Regions from separate parts of the Homo sapiens genome. Here region 2 is linked to region 1. Evidence: fine-mapped expression QTL. A gene starts in region 1. The other region holds a variant in brackets. All regions are shown on one strand. Distances are from middle to middle. Region 1 holds the start of SAR1B (secretion associated Ras related GTPase 1B). Region 2 overlaps SAR1B (secretion associated Ras related GTPase 1B).

Region 1 (2,910 bases):
AAAAGGACTTCTTCACCTCATTTTGTCCACTGTACCAAACACCTTAAATTGCTGACGAATTTGGTTCTTTCAGCTAACAATGTCAAAGTTTTAGCTGTTTTAAAACAAATCTTCTTGGAAAAGCTTCAACACCTTAAAAATCAGTACAGTGGCCCACTGAGGTGGCTCATGCCTTTAATCCCAGCACTTTGGGAGGCCGAGGCGAGCAGATCACCTGAGGTCAGGAGTTGGAGACCAGACTGGCCAACATAGAGAAATCCCATCTCTACTAAAAATAGAAAAGTTAGACCGGATGCGGTGGCTCACGCCTATAATCCCAGCACTTTGGGAGGCCGAGGCAGGCGGATCACGAGGTCAGGAGATAAGAGACCATCCTGGCTAACACGGTGAAACCCCATCTCTACTAAAAAATACAAAAAAATTAGCGGTGCGTGGTGGCGGGCACCTGTAGTCCCAGCTACTCGGGAGGCTGAGGCAGGAGAATGGCGTGAACCCGGGAGGCGGAGCTTGCAGTAAGCCGAGATCGTGCCACTTCACTCCAGCCTGGGCGACAAGAGGGAAACTCTGTCTCAAAACAACAACAAAAATTTAAAAAATTAAAACAAAAATCAGTACAGTTTTCTCAACAGTGTATCTTTTTTCCACTTAACTGGGACTTTGGGCTACGGAAAACGTTAACCAGTACTAGTAAGGAAGCTCAATTTGCCTCTACACTAATTGGGAGCGCTGAAAACACCAGGCCGTGTCACAGCCTCTTCAGCTGTCAGTGAGACCCGCCACCTTCACCTTACCAGGTAAGGAAACTGAGGCCCAGGGGAAGGAAGGGGCTTGCCTGCAGCCACCTCGTTCTTTCCTGAAAAGACCAAGCGTCTGACAGCAGCAGTGTTCTGCCTCGAGGGCTATCAGACGGCCCCGCGGAGCATGGATGAGACCTGTCCTCCCTCGCGCCGCCTAACCCCGGGGTGAAAAACAGGCGCCCCTTCACGCAGTGCCACAGGCAGGGACTCAGAGTAGGTCTTGGCCCTAAAAGTGCGCCTTCTAGGGGATCCATAGCTGCTGCCCACCGGTCCTCCCAGAAGGAGGGGCTGTCACTCACCTGCGACTGGAGGGAACGCAATCCCCTACTTGGCGTTGGCCGTACACCAGGAGACCGAACTGCAAAGCGCGATGGCTGCCGTGGCCCCAGTTCGCATCAGCCCCTTCCGGGCCGGCGGGTGCCTCACTAGCGACAGTCCGCAGGACCGCGTCGCCGAGCGCCCTAGGTTCCGCCTCCTGGCAGTCTTGCCGCCAATTCCCCAGTTGAGCGAGGCTGCTCGCAACCCCTAACACCGCCTGGGTCTCCCAGCCGCCTGGTCTCCCCACACCCGCCCGCCCGAAGGGATTTTAGGGGCCTGCGTGCCGAGAAAGGAACACCCCATGCCTCCCTAGGGGAAATTACTTTTGGCATTTTTTTTTTTTGAGACGTTGTCTCGCTCTGTCTCCCAGGCTGGGGTGCAGTGGCACGATCTCGGCTCACTGCAGCCTCCACCCCCTGGATTCAAGAGATTCTCCTACCTCAGCCTCCCCAGTAGCGGGGACTACAGGCACCCGCCACCACTGTCCGGCTAATTTTTTTTTTTTTTGAAACGGAGCCTCGATTTTGTCGCCCAGGCTGGAGTGCAATGGCGCGATCTCAGCTCACTGTAACCTCCGCCTCCCGGGTTCAAGCGATTCTTCTACCTCAGCCTCCTGAGTAGCTGGGAGCACAGGCGCGCACCACCATGCCCGGCTAATTTTTGTATTTTTAGTAGAGACGGGGTTTCACCATGTTGGCCAGGCTGGTCTCGAACTCTTGACCTAAAGTGAACCGCCCGCCTCGGCCTCCCAAAGTGCTAGGATTACAGGCGTGAGCCACTGCGCCCGGCTAATTTTTGTATTTTTAGTAGAGACCGGGTTTCATCATGTTGGCCAGGCTGGTCTCAAACTCCCTAGCATAAGTGATCCACCTGCCTCAGCCTCCCAAAGTGCTGGGATCACCACCGCGCCCTGCCTAAAATACATTTTCAAAGTACACGTGCTTATTGAATTCATTTTTTTTTCTTTTTTTGTTATTTGTGCTTATTGAATTCACCAGTGATTTACACAATGTAGCTACGTACCAGATAATGTGTTGGATGCTGGTTATTCAGCTTTTATTCAGCTGGTTATTCAGTTGTTTTATAGACGGTCTTGGCCAGGCGCGGTGGTTCACACCTGTAATCTCAGCACTTTGGGAGGTCAAGGTGGGTGAATCACCTGAGGTTAGAGTTCAAGACCAGCCTGGCCAACATGGTGAAACCCCATCTCTACAAAAATACGAAAATTACCCAGGCATGATGGCAGGTGCCTGTAACGCCAGCTACTCGGTAGGCCGAGGCAGGAGAATTGCTTGAACCCGGGAGGTGGAGGTTGCAGTGAGCCGAGATTGCACCATTGCACTCTAGCCTGGGCGACAGAGCGAGACTCTGTCTCCGTCTCAAAAAATAAATAAATTAATTAAATTAAAAATAAATTTAAAAATTATATATATATATAGACGGTCTTGCTCTTTCTCCCAGGCTGGAGTCCAGTGGTGCTATCATAGCTCACTGCAGCCTCAATCTCTTGGGCTCAAGGAATCCTCCCATGTAGCTGGGACCACAGGCGTGTGCCACCAGGCCCAGCTAATATTTGAATTGTTTTGTAGAGATAGGGGTCTCATTATGTTGCCCACGCTGATCTTGAACTCCCGGGCTTAAGCGATCCTCCGGCCTCTGCCTCCCAAAGTGCTGAGATTACAGGAGTGTAGTCAGATAGTCAGCATTTTTTTTTTTGGAGGCGGAGTCTCACTCTGTCGCCCAGGCTGGAGTGCAATGGTGCGAGCTTGAGCTCTGCTCACTGCACCTCCGCCTC
Region 2 (2,910 bases), 22 kb before region 1:
ATATGTGATTATATATACATAAAATGTGTGTATTTATATTACATATATATGCAGTGTTCATTTTTTGACATTTCTAGTTATCAGATTTTTTTTGCCAGTGATAAATTTGGAATGAGTGACAGAAGGAAATTAATATCAGGTACAAGCTTGTTAAAATAATAAGGCCGGGTGTGGTGGCTCACACTTGTAATCCCAGCACTTTGGAAGGCCAAGGCAGGTGGATTGCTTGAGCTCAGGAGTTCAAGACCAGCCTGGACAACATAGTGAAACCTCATCTCTACAAAAAAACACAAAAAATTAGCCAAGCCGGACACAGTGGCTCATGCCTGTAATCCCAGCACTTTGGGAGGCTGAGGCAGGTGGATCACCTGAGGTCAGGAGTTGGAGACCAACCTGGCCAACATAGTGAAACCCTGTGTCTCTACTAAAAATACAAAAATTAGCCAGGCTTGGAGAATCACCTGAACCCGGGAGGTGGAGGTGGCAGTGAGCCGAGATCATGCCACTGCACTCCAGCCTGGGTGACAGAGAGAGACTCCGTCTCAAAAAAAAAAAAAAAAAAAAAAAAAAATTAGAAAGTGTGGTGGTGTGTGCCTGCCCAGCTACTTGGGAGGCTGAGGTGGGAGGATGGAGCCCAGGAGGCAGAGGCTGCAGTAAGCCAAGATCATGCCACTGCACTCCAGCCTGGGAGACAGAACCAGACTCTGTTTCAAAAAAAATAATTAAAAAAAAACCAAAACAAAATTGTTTTACTCAGAAAAGAAGCTCAAATGTTAATAATTAACTGAAGTCTATGAAATCATAAGAGTAATTTTTTCCATAACATAACTTTCTTCACTGACTTGAGTTTTATGACATACCTTTTTTTTTTTTTTTTAAAGAGACAGGGTCTTGCTCTGTCATCCAGGCTAGTTCACTGCAACCTCAGACTCTTGAGCTCAAGTCATAGTCCCATCTCAGCCTCCTGAGTAGGTAGGACTATCAGTGTCTATCACTATGCCCCATTAATTGTTAAATTCTGTGTAGAGACAGGGTCTTGCTATGTTGCAAGGCTGGTCTTGAACTCCTGGCTTCAAGTGATCCTCCCAACCTCAGCCTCTCAAAGCACTGGGATTATAGGCCTGAGACCCCACACCCAGCCATTATGACATATCTTGAAACAACATAGAAATGAAGTCTCAGACAAATTCCATTAGATTCCAATTCTAATCATCGTATTCCAGAAATTATTTTGTGTATATGCCAGACAATTACATGTCTCAAATGTGCTTTCACTAGCCAGAACCATTTACAATCTTTTCAACTATATGTCGCATCAGGTTTTTAGAATGCCCACCAATTCGGTAATATTGGTTAGTTATGACTTACTATGAGGTAGATGTTGCCAAGTACTTTTGGGGATATAAAAAATGAACAGGCCAGGTGTGGTGGCTCACACCTGTAATCCCAGCACTTTGGGAAATTGAGGTAGGAGGATTGCTTGAGGCCAGGACTTCAAAATCAGCCTGGGCAAGATTGTGAGACCCCATCTCTACAAAAAAAA[T/A]TTTTTTTAATTAAAACAAAACAAAAAACAGGATTTTAGTCCCCGCAAGTTTAATATAAGAGATAAGGCAGTCTTTCCAAACTTGTTGTAGACATGTACACAAATATACTAAGTGCTATGAAGTATAGCTGAGAGCACTCCAACTGAGAATGGCTTCCCAAGGGAGGTAGCAGGGCATACGCTGGGGCCTAAAGGGGTTACTCATGTGCGGATGGGGATGGCATGAACAAAAGCACAGAGGAAAACACCAAGAAGGTCTGATTTGGTTGAAGCAAAAAGAACGGGAAGGGGAATAGAGGGAAATAAAAGAAAAGTAGGCCAGATGTGGTGGCTCACACCTATAATCCCAACTTTTGGGAGACTGAGATGAGAGGATTGCTTGAGCCCAGGAGTTGGAGACAAGCCTGGGCAACATAGTGAGTGAGACCCTGTCTCTATAAGATAATTTTTAAAAGCCCAGAAAAGTAAACTGGGACCAGATCATAGAGATCCTGAATGCCAGGTTAATGAGTTTGGCCTTTATTTTGTAAGTAATGAGTTAGCCACTGAAGGTTTTTTTGTTTTGTTTTGTTTTGTTTTTGTTTTACAGAGCAGTAACATGTTCAAAACATGATTATGACAGTGAGAGGTAGATTGAAGTAGAGAGAATGGAAGTTAATTTTACTCATACACTTTACCACCAAAAGCAATTCTCATTTGAATTGGCCAGAAGTATCATGAAAATCACCCTTTGCTTTTAAAGTATTTATCGGGGAGTAATAATCCCTAAATTTTAAATCTACTCTGGCCTTGCGTGACTAGAATGAGATTTCATGCACTAGAACTAATGGCCACATTTTTGTTAAGTTAAAATAAAACAAAGTGACTGTAAGAGTAAGAGAATCTTACCTTGAACGTGGCGAAATCCCATCTCTACTAAGAATACAAAAATCAGCTGGGCGCGGTGGCACATGCCTGTAATCCCAGCTATTGGGGAGGCTGAGGCATGAGGATTGCTTGAACCCAGGAGGCAGAGGTTGCAGTGAGCTGAGATTGCACCACTGCACTCCAGCCTGGGAGACAGAGTGAGCCTGTCTAAAAAAAAAAAAAAAAAAAAAAAAAAAAAAAAAAAAAAAAGAATCTTACCTTGAACATGTCCACCCAGATCAAAAGTTGTAAACGTCATGCCAGCAATGGTCAGTTCTTCGGAAGCTAAATAAGATTTTAAAATATTTTTACATGAAAATTAGAAACCCATTAATCGTGTAAAAAGTAAAGTAGAGGTTCCTTTTCAAAGACTTTCCTCCCCATCTAATTAAGAATAAATAGTAACTTCTCTTAGAAGCAAAATTGATTCAAAGACCCGTGCTAACATTCTTAAATATCTG

The links. PIP is the estimated chance that this variant, and not a neighbour inherited with it, causes the effect.
Region 2: its variant is fine-mapped to the expression of SAR1B in lung (TOPMed, PIP above 0.99). The same link has a PIP of 0.9 or more in nasal epithelium and whole blood.

What each region holds. Positions count from the first base shown.
Region 1 is chr5:134,631,632-134,634,541 of GRCh38, forward strand. SAR1B (secretion associated Ras related GTPase 1B) reads right to left here and starts at 1,197. Exons shown (of 7, transcript NM_016103.4): 1 at 1,097-1,197. RefSeq lists silencers at 909-1,018, 1,069-1,118 and an enhancer at 1,092-1,648.
Region 2 is chr5:134,610,023-134,612,932 of GRCh38, forward strand. It overlaps SAR1B (secretion associated Ras related GTPase 1B), which reads right to left. Exons shown (of 7, transcript NM_016103.4): 4 at 2,669-2,734. Among named protein-coding and RNA genes, the nearest start is that of SAR1B, 21 kb to the right of the region's middle. The variant T/A (reference allele first, on the strand shown) is at 1,544.